7 separate regions of the Homo sapiens genome follow, and regions 1, 3, 4, 5, 6 and 7 are each reported to be linked to region 2. Evidence: microRNA targets listed by miRTarBase, many of them from high-throughput screens and not tested one by one. Region 2 holds a microRNA gene; each other region holds the end of a gene's coding sequence.
The links. The annotated mature microRNA hsa-miR-19b-3p reads UGUGCAAAUCCAUGCAAAACUGA and lies in region 2 at 2,120-2,142, shown strand. An mRNA with a match to its seed (bases 2 to 7 or 8) in the 3' UTR can be bound and repressed. Matches are read on the target gene's strand: a 7mer-m8 pairs with bases 2 to 8, a 7mer-A1 pairs with bases 2 to 7 and ends in A, and an 8mer does both.

Region 1 (3,096 bases), not on the chromosome of region 2:
GGAAAATACTTTGGTCACAAATACAGACTCATTAAACATTGGAGTGTTCATACTGGAGCAAGGCCTTATGAGTGCATCGCATGTGGGAAGTTCTTTAGCCAAAGCTCTGACCTTATTGCACATCAAAGAGTTCATAATGGTGAAAAGCCTTATGTGTGCAGTGAATGTGGAAAAGCCTTTAGCCACAAACATGTACTTGTTCAGCATCATAGAATTCACACTGGAGAAAGGCCATATAAGTGCAGTGAATGTGGGAAGGCCTTCAGGCAGAGGGCTTCCCTCATCCGCCACTGGAAAATTCACACTGGAGAAAGGCCTTAGGATGGGAGATAATTCCGTTTCCTTGTTCAACATAATAACTGACATCAGAGAGAAGCTCCAAGCATAGCCTTTATGTGTAGCCGACAGCCAGAAGTAGAACTTTATACACTCAAACACTCACCCTGGGGAGGTTCTTCCGAGTGCCAGCTATATGGGAAGCCTTCTGGAGCTATGCTGAATTTTCTAGACTCTTGCTGGAATTTCGTCAAGGCAGTGCCTGTTAGAAGCCATCTGTCTTTGTGCTGGAAGAGTCCTGCCTTGTGCCAAAGTAACCCCAATGTGTTTCAAAAGACAGACCTCTGTACTATTCCCTTCCCTGGAGGGAATCATCAGTAGCCTGAGGCCATCAAGGATTCTCACTTTTTTTCTGCCCCACTACTGGTTTAAGCATGAGCATGACCCAGTTTTAGCCAGAAAAATGGGAGCTTTGTTCTGCTGACCACTGGCAGAGGTTTCCCTTCATGGATATAGTTGATCTCACATGGCACTTGGGACGAATTTTTCTAGCCTTCAAGACACCTGACCTGAAATTGGCTGCCTCATATTCTGGTTTTGCAACAAATGCCTTAATTTTTAGACTATCTGAAATCTTGAGGATTCTGTTCGCTTTGTGGGTTGGGTTGAGAACAGAATTGAGCTAAGCCAGTATGAAGGGAAGAACAGCTTTTGTGAGAGCTCCAACTATCTGTATCTCTGAAGTGATAGTAGGATGGCAAAGACTAGCTCTTATGCTAGTGTCAAGCTAACTTACTTGACTGCTTCAGCTCTCCTAGGAAAGAATGCCAGTCTTTGTAGGCCTAATCTTTTGGTCTATATGTTAAGATTTTTTGTGTAATTGAGGTCACCCTAAGCAGTGGGCATTTGTTGTGATAATCTCTAATGTGTCTGGGAGCAACATGAATTACGTCCCTTGTTCCCAGAAGATACTTCATATTCCCAAGGCTTCTTGAGGAGAATTTGAACTCAGTGGACATGTCAAGATCTCTGAAGTCTATTTTTCAGTAGGCAGTTGATATTGGCTGTCCTCCAGAAGGCCCAGGTAGGAATCATAGTTGGTGCAGAAACCCAGATTAATAAAGGAATGAGAAAACTGCAGCAAACTATAGGGAATATGACCCTTCTAAAGGTACATCCACATGTGTTTCCATTACTCTGGCTCCATTATGAGGGTTTACAGAAATATTTCCATACCTGTGTCTCTTATGGCTAAGGTTACTGTCCAGAAGTCAGTCTAAACATTTTTGCAATAAACTGCACATATTTATAGTGTACCATTTGATAAGTTTTGATACATGTTGGCACTTCTCAAACCAAAAGTTTCCTGATTCCTTTTATATTTTCTCCCTTTCCTTCACCCATCCCCAGGCAACTATTGATCCGTTGTCACTGTAGATTTGTTTGTATTTCCTAGAATTCTACAGAGATAGAGTAATTTAATATGTATTCTAATGTTTTTGGCTTCTTAAACTCTGAAATTAAGGCTCATGGTGGTGTTCTGTGTTTCATAGTTCATTTCTTTTCATTTGTACTTTGCTAAGAGTGTTCCATTGTAGAGAAATAGTTTCAAAGCAAGTGATCCAGGAGAGAACTCACACAAGAACAAAGCCACAGTATCTGTCATTACCTTAAACTGAAAGTGATGAGCCGTCATTTCTGCTATATTTCATAAGTAACCCTAGCTAATCCTGGTTAAAAGTGGAAGAGAACTACACAAAGGTGAAAATAGGGATTTGTGGGGCGTTTTCTTGGACTCTGGTGACCATAATCCTATATGGTTTTTTTCTTTTTCTGTTTTAGTTGTTTAATATGAATTACATTGACTGATTTTTTTAAATGTTAAGCCAACCTTGCATTTCTGTAATAATTCCCATTTGGTCATGATGTATTAGTCATTTAGTATATTGTTGAATTTGATTTGCTATTTTGTTTTGTTTTGTTTTGTTTTTTTGTAACAAGTTTTGCACCAATGTTCACGAGTGATATTTGTCCCTAACTTTCTTTCTTGCTTGCTTGCTTTTTTTTCTTTGTAATTTTATATCTTGCCCAGGTTTGGCTTTGGTATCAGCATAATGCCAGCTTTATAGAGTAAGTTGGGAAGTATTCCTGCTCTTCAGCTCTCTGGAAGAGTTTGTGAATAATTGGTATTATTTCTTCCTTAAATGTTTGGTAGAATTCACCAAGGAAGCTGTCTGGGCCTGGAGTTTGTTTTGTAGGAAAGTTTCTAACTATAAGTTTGATTTCTGTGGTAGATAGAGGGCTGTACAAGTTATATGTACATCTGTCTGTGTGTGTGTTGTCTGTCTGTCACTCTGGCCCTGAAGTGTGTTTTGTAGGACAGCATCTAACTACAAGTTTGATTTCCATGGTAGATGGAGGGCTATACTAGTTATATATACATCTGTCTGTCCGTCCATCTGTTTGTCACTCCATCCATCCATCTATCTCTAGAGTGAGCTTTGATGGTTTGTGTCTTTCAAGGAGTTTTTCTGTTTTATTTAAGTACTCAAATTTTTCAAAATATTATTTTCATACTTGTAGAATTTGTAGTGGTGCAACCTCTTCTATTCCTGATACTGGTAATGTCTATATTTTTCTTTTAACCTTGATTGGTTTGGGTAGAGATTTATCAATTTTACAATTTTATTGATCTTAAAGTACTTGGTATTATTGAATTTTCTGTTTTCTGATATTTTGGGATTTTTCTTTTCCATTTTGAGTTTTACTAATGCCTTCCGCTTTTATTGGATTTCATTTCTTTTGCTACTTTTTAACATG
Region 2 (3,096 bases):
CTTTGAATGGAGAACTCCGTTTCCCATGATGCTTTGTTTCTTTCTCTTTAATTTCGGCGGCGGCTGAGGCTGCACGAGGACTGGAGCGCGTGGTGTGAGCAGCTGGAGCACACCCTGGACGCGCGGGCTGCTCGCGGACTTCAACGGGAGCATTAGGTAAGGGTGTGAGAGACGCGGGAAGAGGCAAAAGGGAGCCACAAAGGCGTACAGGGAAGGACTTCTTTCTTTCTTTTCCTTATTATTATTATTATTATTTGCAATTTAAGGGGATTGGAGAGTGACTGCCCAGCGTGCGCGAGGGATGCCAGATGAACCGCTAATTAGCAAAAGGTAGTAACTAGAAGGGCGCCCTGTCTGATGGCTGTGGGGCTCAGTTTGGCCAGGTTGGGTTGGCAAATACTATGCATTTTGAGTCAAGTTTGGAGTATTTTTTTTTTAATGGAAAAGAAATCTTCACAGGTGTAGAAACCCAATTTAAGGGGAAAAATGTTATTTTTCTCATTTCTATACTAAATCCATTCTTCCCTAATAGAAAATTGATTCCAGATTGATGTATAAGTTTTATAAATCAGTTTAGTTTGTAAAGACTTCTAAAGACTCATTTAGTGGCATAAGATATCGTGACGAAAGTTCAACATTTAAAATTCCCTCACTCGTTTAACGTATTACAGATTCTGTCCCAAACGTTTTTGTTTTTCTTTTAAACAAAAGTTACCCCATCATGGAAGAGATAGGGGACCCTGTGAGCCTTTTTCACATAGAGGCTCACTTCCTTGCTGTATGTTCTTAGGTAAAATAAGCACTTGGAAATGGGAGAAGGTTTTCTTATGGAAGATAATGACATGAAGGGAAGAAGAGCTAATCTGCCTACTTTGGTTTAATGGAGAAAATGGGTCCATAAATGTTTAAACAGAAGTAGAGCCCTTTGAAATAGATCAAAATGTGACATCTCTCAGCCATCTGTGCATTATGTGAAGACTGTAAGGCTGTGTTTCTTAAACCAGCTCTAAAATTTCTCTCATTTTCTATTAATGGGGTGGGGGCTGGGAATATTCATTTAATCTAACAGTCACTTTCCGTATGGAGCCCAAAAGCTCTGAATGATCTGAAGACTCGAATACTCATCCTGGGTTTTACATGCTCCTTTCTCTAGGTCCTCCTCTTATAAAATCAGGGTGGATAGAATGTGCCTGCAAATTACTGAGATGCAGATATCAAATTTTCTTAGATGGAGAGGGGGAGTCCAAAATCTGCTTATACATAAGAATTGGACTTTTTGCAGTTGCCAGTGTTATTCGTGTTCAATTCTGTGTAAATAATTGAGATTATTAATATTTCTCAGGATTTGGTTGAAACCACAAAACCTAGCTTAGACTCTGTAAGCCAAAGGAAAGCCTGTTTCAGGAATATTAACTAGTAGTTTACTTGTTTAGTTTCTAATATGTGTGTGTTTGTTTTGTTGTTTTAACCAGGTGAGTCTGCATGGATCTGTGAGGACGGAAAAGAAGAGCTCCTGGAAGACTTAAAATTTTGCTACAGGAATAGGCCTTGGCCATGTAAAAGTGCTTACAGTGCAGGTAGCTTTTTGAGATCTACTGCAATGTAAGCACTTCTTACATTACCATGGTGATTTAGTCAATGGCTACTGAGAACTGTAGTTTGTGCATAATTAAGTAGTTGATGCTTTTGAGCTGCTTCTTATAATGTGTCTCTTGTGTTAAGGTGCATCTAGTGCAGTTAGTGAAGCAGCTTAGAATCTACTGCCCTAAATGCCCCTTCTGGCACAGGCTGCCTAATATACAGCATTTTAAAAGTATGCCTTGAGTAGTAATTTGAATAGGACACATTTCAGTGGTTTGTTTTTTGCCTTTTTATTGTTTGTTGGGAACAGATGGTGGGGACTGTGCAGTGTACAGTTGTGTACAGAGGATAAGATTGGGTCCTAGTAGTACCAAAGTGCTCATAGTGCAGGTAGTTTTGGCATGACTCTACTGTAGTATGGGCACTTCCAGTACTCTTGGATAACAAATCTCTTGTTGATGGAGAGAATATTCAAAGACATTGCTACTTACAATTAGTTTTGCAGGTTTGCATTTCAGCGTATATATGTATATGTGGCTGTGCAAATCCATGCAAAACTGATTGTGATAATGTGTGCTTCCTACGTCTGTGTGAACACACCTTCATGCGTATCTCCAGCACTCATGCCCATTCATCCCTGGGTGGGGATTTGTTGCATTACTTGTGTTCTATATAAAGTATTGCACTTGTCCCGGCCTGTGGAAGAAAGGAGGATTTTTATCGTCTTCTTATTTTAACTTTTAAAAGCCGTAAGTTCTGATATTTAGTCATTGTAAAATGATCTGTTTTGCTGTTGTCGGGTGGATCACGATGCAATTTTGATGAGTATCATAGGAGAAAAATTGCACGGTATCCATCTGTAAACCGCAGGACCTTTGTTGGCGACATTCCTGATCAGCGCTACAGTAAGCTAGATGGTAAAAAATCCTTTCTCTAGTTGCTGCTATTAAAAAATAATTTGAAATATATTTGGATTTCTAAAAACTATGATAGCTAATTTATAAAGTATGTGTTTTGGAACTTTGGTGAATGATCAGATTGTTACTGAATGTGAATGAACCTCAAAATAAATGAAATTTATAGATCTGAAAAAATGACTCTTTTTTTTTTAAAAAAAATAATTAGCAATGCTAGAGGAGTTTGTAAAATATCTCTTGGGAGGATCCTAAAGGAAAACTTGGACATAGCTGCTTTTCAAGTTTGCATCTACATAAAGCACCAAGATGCCTAATTTTAGGAATTTTATTACCCTGACAATATTTGGATGACATGTACTAATTTTGTTTTAGTACACGTGCTCATTCTTAGGAAGGGAATGAAGAGTTGTAAACCAATGGGACACATACCTTTAAGGAACTGGGCACATTTTGAGGTCTGACAGGAGAGAAGAATGAACTTGTCAATCAAACTCTGTTTTGGGGTTCTCGGAGAAGAGGATTTGGTGGCAGGGCTACTGAGAGGGATGGCTGCTGCCTTGCTTTGGAGTCTAGCAGATGGAAACCTGGATGTGGGCCT
Region 3 (3,000 bases), not on the chromosome of region 2:
AGGTTCACGACATCCGCTGGAACTTTGAGAAGTTCCTGGTGGGGCCAGATGGTATACCCATCATGCGCTGGCACCACCGGACCACGGTCAGCAACGTCAAGATGGACATCCTGTCCTACATGAGGCGGCAGGCAGCCCTGGGGGTCAAGAGGAAGTAACTGAAGGCCGTCTCATCCCATGTCCACCATGTAGGGGAGGGACTTTGTTCAGGAAGAAATCCGTGTCTCCAACCACACTATCTACCCATCACAGACCCCTTTCCTATCACTCAAGGCCCCAGCCTGGCACAAATGGATGCATACAGTTCTGTGTACTGCCAGGCATGTGGGTGTGGGTGCATGTGGGTGTTTACACACATGCCTACAGGTATGCGTGATTGTGTGTGTGTGCATGGGTGTACAGCCACGTGTCTACCTATGTGTCTTTCTGGGAATGTGTACCATCTGTGTGCCTGCAGCTGTGTAGTGCTGGACAGTGACAACCCTTTCTCTCCAGTTCTCCACTCCAATGATAATAGTTCACTTACACCTAAACCCAAAGGAAAAACCAGCTCTAGGTCCAATTGTTCTGCTCTAACTGATACCTCAACCTTGGGGCCAGCATCTCCCACTGCCTCCAAATATTAGTAACTATGACTGACGTCCCCAGAAGTTTCTGGGTCTACCACACTCCCCAACCCCCCACTCCTACTTCCTGAAGGGCCCTCCCAAGGCTACATCCCCACCCCACAGTTCTCCCTGAGAGAGATCAACCTCCCTGAGATCAACCAAGGCAGATGTGACAGCAAGGGCCACGGACCCCATGGCAGGGGTGGCGTCTTCATGAGGGAGGGGCCCAAAGCCCTTGTGGGCGGACCTCCCCTGAGCCTGTCTGAGGGGCCAGCCCTTAGTGCATTCAGGCTAAGGCCCCTGGGCAGGGATGCCACCCCTGCTCCTTCGGAGGACGTGCCCTCACCCCTCACTGGTCCACTGGCTTGAGACTCACCCCGTCTGCCCAGTAAAAGCCTTTCTGCAGCAGCTGAGCCTACTGTGTGTGGTGCTTCTTCAATGGTGGCCGCCCCCGCCTGGGTGGGAAGTGAGGAGGAGAAGGTGGGGCAGGGTAAAGGGGGGAGGATGAGAAAAGAACAAATATGACAACAAAAACTTTTTACAGTGGGTGCAAAGGTAATTGCGGTTTTCGCCATATGGCAAAATCCAAGGCTACCTCCCCACCCCACAATTCTCCCTGAGATCAGCCAAGGCAGACTGCAAGGGCCATGTAGCCCTATTAGGGGTGGCATCTTCATGAGGGAGGCCCCCCTGCCACAAAAAAGGGGCAAAAATTGCAATTACTTTTTCAACAACCTGATAGTTAGCTGCAGTGGCGCACTCCTTCAGCTACTTGGGAGACTGATGTGGGAGGCTCCCTTGAGCCCGGGAGTTTGAGGCTATAGTGTGCCGTGACTGAGTCTGTGAAGAGCCACTGCACTCCAGCCTGGGCAACACAGTCAGACTGTCTCTTAAAAAAAAAAAAAAAAAAAGAGAGAAATTAGACAATGCTTTGAGTCCCTGCTTTTTGGCTCCTACCTTGGCCCACTCTGCTTCTCTCACTCAGCATTTGGAGTTTATAAAACCAGTTCTGATCTACTCTCATTCCCTCCCACAGTTCTCCAAGTCAGCTGAGGTTAAGATGAGGTGTTCTGTTTGACGGATGAGGAAACTGAGGCTCACAGAAGGGCCACGCCTTGCCCCAGGTCTCCTGATGAGTGAGGGGCAGGACTGGAATTTAAACCCAAGTCCCCTGAGTCCTGGCCTAGGCTCCTTCCACTGCCCCGGTTGCCCTACCCTCAGGGAGGCCCTGATACGTCACCATTACTCAAGAGTAATGGTGACCATCTCAGGGAAAGGAAGAAAAGGGGAACAGAAGGAGGGACCCAGGAAAGCAGGGGGTTGACAGGGGAACATTAGCGCATAAATGAACATGAGTCAGAATGTTGATCTTCTTCAACTTGGATTTATGTCCATGATTCGTGCAAATAGCTATCCAGGGATGGACAGCCACCCTAATCTGGGCTTCTGGCACCACAGGCCTCCAGCTATGGGGTCCAGGGTCTGAACCTCAGGGCCTGGCAGCTTCAGGCTGGCGCCCCTCGGCGGACGTGGCTGGCATGGCCTTCTCCCATCTGTGATGGCTTCAGCAAGGCTACTGTGAGTGGTGGTGGAGAGGGCCCCAGAGCCAGAATATCCATCATTCTCTTCTGTTCTGGAGACAAACCCACACTTCCCACAGCTCCTCACAGAGGGGTAGGGGTGTGCGTGGGGCAGGTCCTGCTACAGAGCTTGAAGCAAAAATTAAACACACACACAAATTGGTCATGGCAACTAGAGGGCCTGAAACCACTTCCGGGAGGTTTTGAAGGAAGGGGGTCTTGGCTGCCTCCCACTCTTAGGATTGCTGCTCCTGGAGGCTTCTGCAACGGATGGTGGGTCAAAGCCGGATGAGGCCTCTCTCCACTCAGCAGCAGGGAAGGAGTTTTTCCCAGTCACTCCCAGCAGAGTACAAATGAAAGCCTTCTGGGTGGAGCCTCCCCAGTCCTGTAAACAGCTCAGTTCAGGGACTGGTGTACAAGCTGGCCACCCATCTCAGCCTCTCATCCAGCTGAGGCTCTGGCCACACCGTGCAAGTGGCTTCTAGTTTCTTGGCAATCTGAGATCAGCTGGCTCTGCAAGATGAAGGTGGAGCCAAATGACACAATCTGGTCTCACTGAGGCCCCTCACGGTCATTTTTTGGAGACTCTAAATAAACAAAAATTTTGAGGACTTCATGATTATGTGGTAGAGCGAGTTTCAAAGTCTCTTATGGAATGCAGTGCAGGAACAGTGAAAATAACAGCTAGGGTTACTGGGTGCTACCAAGTGCCAGGGCTAAGTACCTTAAGTACGCTGGTCATGTAATCTTCACCCAGCCCTATGAAGAAGGCAGGTTATTATCCCATTGTAAAAGAGGGAACTGGGACACTA
Region 4 (3,096 bases), not on the chromosome of region 2:
GTATGAAAATCATTTAAACCCGGGAGACAGAGATTGCAGTGAGCTGAGATCACGCCACTGCACTCCAGCCTGGGTGACAGAGCAAGACCCTGTCTCAAAAAAAATAAATAAAAAGAAGTTATGATTGGGGTGGAGGGGGGAATAAAACTGAATTTGGTGGAAGAGATTGACTTTTTATTAACTATTTGTGTATCTGTTAGATATAAAACACTGAACTGGGTACAACAGGGCCTTCATAAAAGATGACCAAATGCTAAGGGTAGAGAAATAATCTCGGGTATTTTGTTATGAGAAGTCTTACAAAGATGTAACTGTAATATGAAAGATTGCCTTCTGTTTTAACTCATTTATACAATTTTCCTTTCTCTCCTTTGTACTCCTAGGCTAGTTCAGGGGATACGATAAAAGATCTCCAAATGTGTCCTGTACCTCCTTTTGGCTGCCACCTGCACTGCTGCCATCACCAATGGAGTGTTTTTAATGAGGGAAGGAAGGTAGCTTTTTCCCCAAAGCAAAGTCTTGTGGGATCGATTCCTGTTTACAGGGGTTGTCTCTCTAAATGTCAGATATTTCCCCACTGCTCTATGAAATTTGGCTGGGTGATACTTCTGCTGGTTTCTTTACCTTCTGTGTTACAGTTCTGCATGTCCTACTTTTACTCAGTTCTGTTTTGCATTTTCTTTGCCCTAGAGACACAAGTGTAATCTCTCCCTTTATCCCTCCACTACTCCACCTCAGAGTAGATTGTAGCCTGCCAAAGGATTCCTTCCCTCATCCTATTGAAGTTGTTTTTTCATTGCCCCATATTAATATGACTATAGAAGAGCCAATTAAGTAGAAATCAAGATATACACACACACATAGATACACACACACACACCCCATACATGTATTTATGTGGTCTTCAGAGGGTCCTTAAAGAATGAATTTTAGATTGAAAAATATTTAGTTGTCTCATTACCTCTTCTAAACACAAACCAGCTGATGTATTTTAATCTGTTTCTGTTCTATCTTGTAATTAATTTGGTGGGTTCTACTTGTTTTAACATAAATAAAGAGTATGCAGCACGTTTAATAAAATCAGAACTCTTAATTGGCTTATGCCCAGGTCTAGGCTGAGAAGTCCTTTTTCTTCTTCCCACCTTTATTTCCTTAGTTTCTGTCCACCTTAATCGAAACAACACATGGTTATGTCTTTTTCCTGCTACAACTACAGGGTACTTGAGCCTTTCCCCTCAAGTGCATTCGAAGTCACCCAGGATGATCCTCACTAGTAGCCTGCTTTGGCAGTGTGGCTTTTTGCACACTTGCCCTGTCTTCCTGAGACTACTTCAGTAAGCCATGCTTCCTTCTTCCCCACTTTTATTTGGTGTCATGAATAGAAACTTCCAAATGTAACCATGGAAGCTAAGTTTGGCCTGCTTTGCTTTTTAGTCTCCACACCATGGGCAGAACTGCTGTCTTTACTACTTCATCTCACCCAAGTCCCGTTCCCAGGCAGCCAGGGGCCTGGGTTTGAATAATTGCAGGGCCAGCCTGCCATGATCTTTCTCACTTACTCCTCTCCCATTCAGCAATCAACCAGACTAAGGAGTTTTGATCCCTAGTGATTACAGCCCTGAAGAAAATTAAATCTGAATTAATTTTACATGGCCTTCGTGATCTTTCTGCTGTTCTTACTTTTTCGAATGTAGTTGGGGGGTGGGAGGGACAGGTTATGGTATTTAAAGAGAATAAACATTTTGCACATACATGTATTGTACAACAGTAAGATCCTCTGTTAAAACCAGCTGTCCTGTTCTCCATCTCCATTTCTTCCCATGCTGTAACCCCAGGCTCCACCAGCTGTTCCCCAGTGATGTTACCTAGCTTCCCTCTACCGTTGTCTACTGACCATTTCCACTACATGCCTTTCCTACCTTCCCTTCACAACCAATCAAGTGAATACTTGATTATTATCTCTTCCTTACTGTGCTTTATCTTTTTTGTTTGGATTGGTTCTAATTAATGAAAATAAAAGTTTCTAAATTTACATTTTTATAGGGTATTGTAAATAAAAACAAATTGTATACTTAAAAATGAGTGCCTGCATTTCTACTTTGTTACCTCTGAATATGATTTTTATGTTTCTAGCATATTTAGATAGACTGTCAACTTCTTGATGTAGGGGATTAAAGATATTATTACCTATATTTTTACCTTTTTAATTTTGTTGCAAAGAAGACAAATATTTTTATATAATAACTTGTCTTTAAAAATCTAAGATGCTTTCAGTTTCTCCTCCCCCCATTTTAACTGTACGACAAAATTATAAATTGTAGTAGATAAACTGTAGTTTGTCTTCTCCATCCTGCCCATCTCTAGGCATTGAGGAATCTGTCCCCCTTTAAGAGACTCATGTAGCCCAATGAGGCATTCAGCTGCCTTCATGGATAGTATTTACTTAGTTCTGAGCATATTGTATTTCAAAACTCATCTCTTCAAAGGAGATGGGAAAAGGTTGGTCATTCTTTATAGTGAATTTATTTTTATTATTTCAGACTTGAGTATCATTTTTACTCTAAAATGCTCAAGATAAAAGATTCAGCAAACACATAGAAAGGGGCAAAAAAAAGTGGGGTTTTGTTTTCAAGACAGGGCCTGTGTCACTCAGGCTGGAGTGTAGTGGCACAGTAGCACAATCACCACTCACTGCAGCCTCGATCTCCCAGGCTCAAGTGATCCACCTCAGCCTCCCGAGTAACTGGGACTACAGGTGTGCACCACCACACCTGGGTAATTTTTATACTTTTTGTAGAGTCGGGATCTCCCTATGTTGCCCAGGCTGGTCTTGAACTCCCAGGCTCAAGTGATCTTCCCACCTTGGCCCCCCAAAATGCTGGGAGTACAGGTGTGAATCACTGCACTCAGCCTGAAGGTTTTCTTCTTTTTCTGAGATGAGTTTCTCTGTCACCCAGGTTACAGTGCAGTGACACAATCATGGCTCACTGCAGCCTCTACCTCCCAGGCTCAAGCAGTTCTCCCACCTCAGCCTCCCAAGTAGCTGGGAATACTACAGGCGGGTGCCATCATGCCCAGCTAAATTTTTTGATTTTT
Region 5 (3,096 bases), not on the chromosome of region 2:
AGGGCAGGAGGGCGTGAGGATCCAGCCCATGAGTGAACGCACCCGGAGAAGAGCTACTTCACGCGACGACAACCGCCGTTTCCGACCTCACAGGTCCAGGCGTTCCCGACGCTCTCGCTCCGACAACGCCCTCCACCTGGCCAGCGAACGCGAGGCCATCTCCCGGTTAAAAGATAGGCCCCCTCTGAGAGCCAGGGAGGACTATGACCAATTTATGCGCCAGCGGAGCTTCCAGGAGAGCATGGGGCATGGGTCCCGGAGGGACCTGTACGGCCAGTGCCCTAGGACTGTGTCGGACCTGGCTTTGCAGAATGCCTTTGGGGACCGCTGGGGACCCTACTTCGCCGAGTATGATTGGTGTTCCACCTGCTCCTCCTCTTCAGAGTCTGACAACGAGGGCTATTTCCTAGGAGAACCCATCCCCCAGCCAGCGCGCCTGCGATACGTCACAAGCGATGAGCTGCTGCACAAATACAGCTCCTACGGCCTCCCCAAATCTTCCACATTAGGTGGCAGAGGACAGTTGCACAGCAGGAAAAGACAGAAGAGCAAAAACTGTATCATTTCTTAATATGATTGGGATCAGGGAATGGGAGAAGATGGGAGCTAAGAATGTAAAGTCAGAAACTTGCACTGTTTTAAATGTTAAAGCGCTTTTGGGGGTGGCTTATGGGGGAGAAAAGGGAAAATGCTGTCAGTAGATGGAGGCAAGGTTACAGGTTGACTCAATAGGTAGTCACAGTTCTTGGCATGTTGAATATTATTTGCACATTTCACTTTGGAAACACAGTAGACTCTATCGAGGCCAGGCTTGGTCACTTCCTTCCCATCAGTTCTGTGTTGAGTTGCCATCTCTCAAGATGGTAAATTGTTTCCTGCTCGCTTTTATCCTCTCTGGTTCTCTTACTTTTAGGACCCTTTTTTCAGTAAGTAATTTGTTTATTAGCCAGGACCCAAGACTAAGTTATTTACATGTCCATTGTAAATGCAATGTAAATGAGAGTTCTGATAAAATATTTTTGTATTTTGTAATATCAAAGGAATTTCTATATCGTAGGACTCAGTGGGGACTTGCATGCACATCCACCATTGTCTCTGAGTAGTATTGAAATGTGGCCCGGTACCACCTTTTTTTTTTTTTTTTTTTTTTCTATACAAATTTGTTACATGTCAGTGAGACCTTTTTCAAAGGAACATATTCAATTTGGCTTTTTGTGGCTGAAAAAACATAACTGTTAGACCCAAAGCATTTTATGCTCCGTTCCATCTTAAGGAGCCATCCTTAAGTCTGCTCCCACCCTCAGTAGAATTTATTTTCTACAAAGTGGTAGTAATTTTTTTTTAAATTGCAAATGTAATTTTTGCCAATTAGAGAAACCAACCGGTGTCAGTAAAATTCTGTGAGAAATGCCATCCCTGCTGGGAATGTTGAAGTTACTTAATGTTGATCTATCCCTTGGGGAAAGTAAAAGTGACTGTGAGTGGTGCCATTGTGTGATGTCAGCATGACGTTGTTTTGAATGTGGCATTATGTTCTGGTGCTCATGTTTCCTGGATTGTATTATCTGCTTTCCTTTACCAAGGCAGACAGAACTGCTGCCTTAGCCTGACAACCGGTTGTCCTCAAAGCAAATGAACTTAAGCATTTGGGATTGAGGGACAGAAGGATTCTGAGGGGGCTCTGCGAGGGACGGTGTGTGACATGTCATGCCTGGAGAAGGAACAAGGCTATTTGAAAACAGAAGGCAGGTCAAGGGTAGAAGTTAAAGGAGAATCTGAAGGCAGGTCAGGGAAAAGAAGAACTGGAAATGAAACAGAGGACAGGTGACAACCACCTCGAAGAGCTCCCAGAGATTGTAGAAAGAGTCCAGTGTAACCAGCTTAGTAACCAGAGTATCTGGATTACCCAGGAAGGTTGAGCTGCTGAGATTTCAGTGGTGCAATGTCTTTAAAAAAACAGGCTTTGTTGGGAGGGTATTTCCATTTTGAACTTTGAGGACTGTTGGTCAGAAAATGGGCTCAAAAGTGAGTTTGCTTAATGAAGACATTTAACGGTTGTGCTGTTTATAGTAAAATAAAACTCCCTACCTTGCTTCAGTTAAAAATGAAGCACTTGGTTTCTTCCATCCTCCTCCTCCCCTTAATGGATTGTGGCAGTTGAAATAATCCATCGGATGACCCACCTGTAGTGAGATGTACTGTCGATGTAGTGCCCGGTGTATCTCAGTGGCCATCTGCCATGGTGAGGTGAGCGTGATCTCTTTTCAGTATAGTAGTTAACATTTTCTAGTATTTTTTATGGAGAGAATGTCAAAAGTGGCATTTCAGACCCCGTCCCAGATGGGTCTGAGGAAAGGAAGGCTGTAAAGGACATGGTAATGGCACTCCATTCGGGATGTATTAAAATAATTTGCTTTTCAGGTATTAATATGACATTTGTCATTGTCACTGATTTTTTTAAAAAAGCAATGCACATGTTGGTTGTGGCTGTTTTCCGCATGCTATCTTCATATCTAAATGCTTCATTAATTATCCGAGCCTCCGGAGAATTAACTCTATTACGTTTGTATAGTAAGTTTGTAAACTGCTTGGCAAACTGATTAAGAAATAATTTGCAATACCGTGCTACTAAAGTGGCAGGTTTCTGGTAGAAATTGTGCGAGTCCAATTTGGAGTTTTAAGTTCCTTGATTGATGAAACTAAAAAGGCAATTTTGGAAAAAGAGAGGGGGAAAAGTAGATCACTTATCTTAGCAAACGGTTGAAAATATGTCTGTCCTCTGTGGCCCCAAATCCAGTGAAAGAAATTCTCCCAGTAAAAGTTGCTTCCTAACTCTGTTTTTCTCAGAATACCTCTTACCTTTCTCAAAGAAAGCTTCAACCACCATCATCAGAAAGAAGGTGGCCTAAAAACTGACACATGGCCAGTGCCCGGAGGGGTCTGGAGGCATAAGTCTAGATGCCCAGAGAGCATCCAGGCACTGAACTGCTCAGAGCTTGAGATGAAATGACATACAAGCTTCAGGGTAAAACTGTCTACTAGCAAGATTACCTCCCTCAATTCTACCATTGCAGATTTCTTCTGACCCCAAATGCA
Region 6 (3,087 bases), not on the chromosome of region 2:
CAAGACCATCCTGGCTAACACGGTGAAACCCCGTCTCTACTAAAAATACAAAAAATTAGCCGGGTGTGGTCGCGGGCGCCTGTAGTCCCAGCTACTGGGGAGGCTGAGGCAGGAGAATGGCATGAACCCGGGAGGCGGAGCTTGCAGTGAGCCAAGATCATGCCACTGCACTCCAGCCTAGGTGACAGAGCAAGTCTCCGTCTCAAAAAAATAAATAAATAAAATAAATAAAAATTGCTTAGGTTGGTGCCTGGCATATAATAATAAAAATAATAGCTATATAAATAATATATATGTATACACAAACACACACACAACTATTATTATATAATATTCAAACAACTCACTGCCATCGGTAGCCCAGTATATGAGAACCGAAACATGACTTCTTTCATTGATAGATGGATGTTAGTGGATGTTTCCTTTTAGCAGGAAGGTACAGTTACTTGGATCCTTTTGACTCTAGTCTCCTTCCTCTAGCCCTCTATAGAATGGAGAGAAGCCAGTAGTAGGAAATCAGCCCAGTCTAATTTCTGATCACATTTAGACTGCAGCATTGGATGTTGGCTTGGGATTCACACTGAGAGACTAACCTGCTGTTTCCCCTGCCTTTTTGCATCTCTCCTCCTTCTTAGTGTGGGTTGTCTCTTCATGAAGAACCAGCGGAACTCAAAACTGCTGTTCAAGAAACCTCTTCAAGACTTTTGACTTAGAACCTGCTATATTATCAAGCTTACCTACTGTTATCTCTAAAATTTTTTTTGTGTTAATGTAAAGTTGAATTTCTAGGAAACGTGCCTTTGTTTTTTAATATGCACTCCAAATTAGAAGGCCGGCCCCGTCCACATTTTGCACAGTGCCTTTACAGATTTACGTATGGGCTGATGAAGAGGCCTTCTTAAGTTCCAGAGTGCTATAATCTAGATGTAATGTTGTCACTAATTAATTGCCATTACTCCCAGTTAGTTACCCTTGTCATTTGGCATTATTTTCAGAACCACATTTTAAACCTTTGGGTAATCAGATTTCCAACTTATGCCTTCCAGAAAAAAACACTACTGCCTAACACAAATCTGTGATAACAACAGGCTGTGCCTTATTTTGATAATTTTCTGATTCCCTAGAAGAGAACCCTCTACTTTTTGTAAGCACTACTGACTCTCGCTGTATTTAAGATGCTGGTGAAGAGCTTTTGCTCTTGCATTAGATTTGAAGATGTTTACATTGTTGTTATTGTTATGTATCACTTGCTAAAAATATTGTTTTAATCAGAGATAACCTCTTTAAAAAAATTTTTAAAGAACTATGGCTATGACCAAAGCTTCTATTTTGCCAAAAAGTTAAATACCGATAAAATGGCCTTAAGTGTATTCCTGACAGTTAAATTCAGAAACGTGCCAAATGGAACTCAAGGTGCCCCTTCAGAATTAAAATCATTACCTTGTGTGTGAACCTTCTACATCTTCATAGGCCTTTCTTCCTTTTGAAAGGCTGTAGACAGTGTGGCTCCCCTTCTGATTCAGTATTTTGCATGGGGGTTAGAGAAGGTTTGAGGTAGACTCTGACCGTCTCATAAAAGAGTTCTACCCAGCAGTTGGCAGATTATCAGCTGTGGACTCCAGCATGTTTCTGATAATTATGCAAGCAACAATTCTGTAGCCTCAAGTAAGACCACCTGTGAACTTGATCATTATCTGGCCCAAATATGAAGATAAACTATAACTTTGGAGTTTGTTTCCTATTTGTATTCACATTCTGCTTCCTAAATCAGTTTTCTAAATTATGCCTGCAATTAGGCATTGGTCAGGGGTGAATGGCTCTTTTCACAGAGAGTAGCCAACCAGAGACCTTTGCTTTGATATCATCAACTGCAGAGAATGCTGTTGATGGGAATGCTGGAAGCAGAAACTTTGTCATCGGAAAAACTTTTCTTGTATGCATGAGACTCAACATCAGGATCCACAGCTTAAAGATGGGAATTCAGGTATGAAAGAAAACAGGCAAGGAGGCACTGAGGGAGAAAGACACAGACTTTATCGCTCTGTGGCTCATTGTTACTGGAATATTCTAAAACTCTTGTTCACATGCTATTATGACTTATAAAGCAGCAACAGCTGAGGCGCACCAGGACACAGCTTCCATTTCTTTAACGTCTGTTCCCTTAACATCGCTGAAATGATTTACTGTTGAAGAGATGCCTTGCGGTGTGGCCAGCTGTGAGGAGAAAGCAGCTGGCAGTGTTAGGACATTAGTCCACCTTCAGCGCAGGGTCTCTGGCCGGGTCTGACTCAGAAACCTTGGTACTCGCCCCTTGGCCACAGTGCCCAGACCCATGTAACCCACTGGCTCCTGCATTAACCCAGAAATACCTCGCTTCTATCTGTGCACTTAGCTGGGAACTTACCCACTGTAATCACCTAAATAAAGTGTTTATAAACATGATTGTGGCACCTGTGCTCCTTGTAGAGGAATAGCTGCACCTGGTCCGAGTCCTAAAAATGCCATTCCTTGCTGCTCCCCATACCTGTCCCTTAGAAGCCCCGAAACTGTCTCCCCCTTTTCTCACCAGCCCCTCTCTAGGTACTCTACCCTTTTGGTACCCAGCATTTCCGCATACCCCAGTGAACAGAAGAAAACCGCTCCCCTTGTGAAAAGTGCTTTTTAGTATAGGCGATGAGGAGGAAACTGGCTTTTACACAATTACCAAAATTCAGGATGTGGCTTTGGAGTTCCCTAAATAGATGGTCTTTCTAAAGTGATGTGCAGAGCCGACCCCGTCTGTGGTAGACTAGATGGCTGCTGGCATGGACCCTGGGATAGATGAGTGGATAGGTGAGGGACATCCCCAGACACATGGCTCTGTTCCTGTAGATCCTTTTTTCCTCATGAATGTATTTCCATTCTTATCGTAGAACCCCTAGGAAACAATATAATACGGGTGGAAGAGGACTTTTGCTTATGTTTACAATAGGAAAATCCAAGTCCCTTTCCCGAATTACAGGTCCCACGATGATCTGGTCCTTTCTAGTTTTCTGACTTCATGTCACACGACTCTCCAGCTCTCTCTTCTCCAAGCAAGGTACTCCA
Region 7 (3,096 bases), not on the chromosome of region 2:
CTTCGAGGGGCACAGTCAATCCCCGTCCACCCTTACCCGCCGGGAGGATCCAGAGCTAGTCCTAAGGGAGCTGTGGGCCCCAATGGCGGTTCAGACGCGCGCCGCCCTTTTGTCAGCTCGCCTGGGGCCCACCCCCGCAACCCCCGCTCACCGCCCGCGGGCCGGTCCAGCTTGAGGATGTCCCGCAGGTGCTGCGTGGCGTCCTCGATGTCGATGCTCGCGCAGGAGGCCATGGGCCCTGCGGCGGGCGCCCCGCCCGCACCGCGTTCGTTCCGCCGCCGCCGCGCACCACGCACCCTCGCTCACCCGCCACGGGGCGAGACAGCGGGACGCCGGTCACTACACAGTCCACCCGCAGTTCGCAAACCGCCACCCGCGCAGCGTCGCTGAGCCCCGCCAACCCCACCAACCGCCTCCACTTCCGGCACCCACGAGCCGAGGCTCCCGGAACCTGCCAGGGCCGGAGAAGAAAGGTTCCGGGCTGGGGGCGGAAGCCTAAACCCCTCCCGCAGCCAGTCCCCCTCGGCGGCCCCGCCCCTGTGTCCGCGAGGTCAGGAAAGTCCCACGGGGCTGAAGTAAGCGTCCACGCACTGGGCCACCTAAAGCCCTACTCGACTCAGAAGGCGCCAGGTCCCTGCCCACTCCCAGAGCATGGACTCCGATGGTCCTGGGACGGGGTCAACTTAGCCGCCCATGCTAAGGTCCCTCAGACCCCCAGAATATGCTGAATTGGCAGGTGCCTCAGGTTCCCTTTGGGAATGGGTCGGAATAACTCAAGGCCTGAGGCTACCCTCGAGGTCATAAAACTCAGGAATTGCAAGAGCAGGGGAGATGATCCCACTACAATGACCAGTCATTGTTCCCTACTGTCCCCCAGCATCCCCTTGTCCCACCTGGCACCCTCAGGTTGGAAGAAAGAAACCACAGTTTACAAATTCTTCTTTATTGCAGACAGTTCAGGCACAGGTACATGGAAGAAGCCGTATTGCAGATTTTACACAAGGTGGTTTGAGGCAGCAGGCACCTACCTCTTCCCCACCCCCACTTCCCCAAATACACATCAGCCTAGAGATCATTCCCACTGAAATCTCCTGAGCATGCTGTCCTCTCAAACAGCACACCATCCAGCCCTGTGCCCAATGTCACCAGGCAATCTGTGGGATCTGAGGAGGTCCTTAGCCTCCACCCGTAGTGGGACAGGGGAAGGGTATCCTTTTACATGTCAGATTTAGCTGTGGTGTCCTTACCAATCCTAAAACCCTTAACAGGGCACTGACCCAAATCTTGGGTTTGGTTCTAGCCTATGGTTGCTACATTGCCACTAGGTTTATACCATCCAGAAGTCTGTGGGACAAGGGGCTAGATTTGTACTGGGCAAGGCCTTTGTCCCCAAAATGGAGAAGCAGAAACTGCCCTAATAGCTAAGACTCCCCGGAATTGGAAGATAGCATGAAGTCTGTATGCTGAGGAAGGAAGTGGAGAGAGGCCTGGCAATGTCCTGCAGCAGTCTGAGGGGTGAGGACTCCTAAAGCATGAGTCCCTCACAGACTGCCTCCTTCCACAGCTCCTGACCTATACTCCAACACAACTGGGCCTGGCTCTGTGGGCAGTGGAGGCTGGCTCTTCGGGTTACCTGCCTTTGGGTAAAGATATCCAAAGCAGATGGGACAGGAGCTGAGCTGCCCTCTGCCTGGCTTGGTGTATGTGGGGCATCCTGGATATGATCCTGATCCTTCTGGGGATAGAGCAGGCCCCTCCCTTGATACTGCTGACAACTCAGCCCGGAGGGCCTGAACGTGATGAGCCATTTTGCCAAGGCCTCTCCAGCTTCAACAGGATTCAGGATCATCTCTCCTGCTACTAGGGCCCTGAACCTACCCAGAGCAGAAGTCACAGGAGGTATCAGAACTGACTGCACAGGCTTCAGTGAGAGAAGCTTCAGGCCAGACCTGAGCTCTTCCTGCCTGCTTTCCAAAGACCAGTCGCCCTGTGGAGTGGGAGAGAACTGCCCTACACGGCTTCTGAGAGGCTAGCTGGGAGTGCTGCTTCAGCAGTTTCTCCCTGCAACAGGTATTCAGAGTTGGGGCAGAAGTGGGAGGGTGAAACATGAGAGAGACAACGGGTCTGGGTAGCTTCTGATGCCCAGCCAACTAGTAAACTAATTAAAACAATTTAAACTGTTAAGAAAATTTTTGTGGTTTTATTGTATCATGAGGCATTGAAACATCTGAACAAATCAATGTCTGGGCGGTGAGGCAGCTGCTTTCTCCTTCACTTCTTTGGGTTACTAGAGCAACTTGTCAGTAGATTAAAAAAAAAAAAAAAAAAAAAAGGACAACCTTTTGCATTACTTAAGTCTTTCCAAGGCATGCGCTGGTACAACACAAACTTCTCCCGTCAGATGCAACTAGTCTAGCATCCAAACATCATGCACAACACCTCAGTGGCAGCAGCGCACTGCGCCCACTCCCACCGCGGCCCTGCTCATTTGTGCATGATATTTGGAGCATCTGGAGGAGTGGGAATAGTATTGGGAAGAGGAGGGAGGAGGAAACAGCGTGAGTGCCTAGCTGAGAGGAGGTCAGCCAAAGTTGTGCAGGGCGAGCCTGAACATGTCATTGGTGCAAACCCAAGCATCGTTGATGTTCTTTAATAGGAACATCTGGTGGAACCCCATGATGGGGTCTTCATCCGCCTATGAGGAGAGAAAAGAGGATTCAGTAAGGGGATCAAGAAACAGGAAGGGAATTCAGTGGTAGGAGAAGAGGGCAAAAAAATGTTGACTTTAGGATCAGGCCCTACTGTCCTGAACTCAAATCCCAGTGTAGCCAAGGGGTACTTGTGAATGTGAATTGATGTAATGTATGAAACAATGCCCTGGGCACATGTAGGCCAACAATCAGCCACGCCTATGTGTGCTATGTGTGCTTAAACTGCACAATAATTCACCCTTAGCTACAGCAAAAGAGCAGAGGATGTACCTGCCTCCAAGCACATATCTCCAGACACAAGTGATCACAATTTTGAAACGAATCCCATAGTATTTACCAAGTAACTTATAGAGTATCAAAAAAACTGCAAACAATCTTGAAAACA

Region 1: the mRNA of ZNF772 is a reported target of hsa-miR-19b-3p. Seed matches in the 3' UTR shown: 7mer-m8 at 2,279-2,285.
Region 3: the mRNA of TNIP1 is a reported target of hsa-miR-19b-3p. Seed matches in the 3' UTR shown: 7mer-m8 at 2,009-2,015.
Region 4: miRTarBase lists PATL1 as a target of hsa-miR-19b-3p. Seed matches in the 3' UTR shown: 8mer at 1,299-1,306 and 8mer at 1,742-1,749.
Region 5: the mRNA of PRICKLE2 is a reported target of hsa-miR-19b-3p. Seed matches in the 3' UTR shown: 8mer at 764-771.
Region 6: miRTarBase lists VAMP3 as a target of hsa-miR-19b-3p. Seed matches in the 3' UTR shown: 8mer at 849-856.
Region 7: the mRNA of NUTF2 is a reported target of hsa-miR-19b-3p. The part of its 3' UTR that is shown has no 7-base or 8-base seed match.

Annotation. Positions count from the first base shown.
Region 1 is chr19:57,470,499-57,473,594 of GRCh38, reverse strand. ZNF772 (zinc finger protein 772) reads left to right here. Exons shown (of 4, transcript NM_001144068.2): 4 at 1-3,096. The coding sequence ends at 321. Among named protein-coding and RNA genes, the nearest start is that of ZNF772, 5.5 kb to the left of the region's middle.
Region 2 is chrX:134,168,729-134,171,824 of GRCh38, reverse strand. It overlaps MIR19B2 (microRNA 19b-2), which reads left to right and starts at 2,059; the gene lies at 2,059-2,154. It overlaps MIR106AHG (miR-106a-363 cluster host gene), which reads left to right. Exons shown (of 2, transcript XR_007068340.1): 1 at 1-156; 2 at 1,473-2,675. MIR363 (microRNA 363) reads left to right here and starts at 2,373; the gene lies at 2,373-2,447. MIR92A2 (microRNA 92a-2) reads left to right here and starts at 2,213; the gene lies at 2,213-2,287. It also overlaps MIR20B, MIR18B and MIR106A.
Region 3 is chr5:151,027,973-151,030,972 of GRCh38, forward strand. It overlaps TNIP1 (TNFAIP3 interacting protein 1), which reads right to left. Exons shown (of 18, transcript NM_006058.5): 18 at 1,973-2,775. The coding sequence ends at 2,741. It overlaps GPX3 (glutathione peroxidase 3), which reads left to right. Exons shown (of 5, transcript NM_002084.5): 5 at 1-1,016. The coding sequence ends at 158. Among named protein-coding and RNA genes, the nearest start is that of GPX3, 8.9 kb to the left of the region's middle.
Region 4 is chr11:59,635,699-59,638,794 of GRCh38, reverse strand. PATL1 (PAT1 homolog 1, processing body mRNA decay factor) reads left to right here. Exons shown (of 19, transcript NM_152716.3): 19 at 384-2,079. The coding sequence ends at 405. Among named protein-coding and RNA genes, the nearest start is that of OSBP, 21 kb to the right of the region's middle.
Region 5 is chr3:64,096,526-64,099,621 of GRCh38, reverse strand. PRICKLE2 (prickle planar cell polarity protein 2) reads left to right here. Exons shown (of 8, transcript NM_198859.4): 8 at 1-3,096. The coding sequence ends at 571. It overlaps PRICKLE2-AS1 (PRICKLE2 antisense RNA 1), which reads right to left. Exons shown (of 3, transcript NR_045697.1): 3 at 1-2,699. Among named protein-coding and RNA genes, the nearest start is that of PRICKLE2-AS2, 5.4 kb to the left of the region's middle.
Region 6 is chr1:7,778,991-7,782,077 of GRCh38, forward strand. VAMP3 (vesicle associated membrane protein 3) reads left to right here. Exons shown (of 5, transcript NM_004781.4): 5 at 636-2,442. The coding sequence ends at 655. Among named protein-coding and RNA genes, the nearest start is that of PER3, 3.8 kb to the right of the region's middle.
Region 7 is chr16:67,870,399-67,873,494 of GRCh38, reverse strand. It overlaps NUTF2 (nuclear transport factor 2), which reads right to left. Exons shown (of 5, transcript NM_005796.3): 5 at 928-2,695. The coding sequence ends at 2,582. It overlaps EDC4 (enhancer of mRNA decapping 4), which reads right to left and starts at 443. Exons shown (of 29, transcript NM_014329.5): 1 at 152-443. The coding sequence starts at 233. RefSeq lists an enhancer at 1-227 and a silencer at 121-330.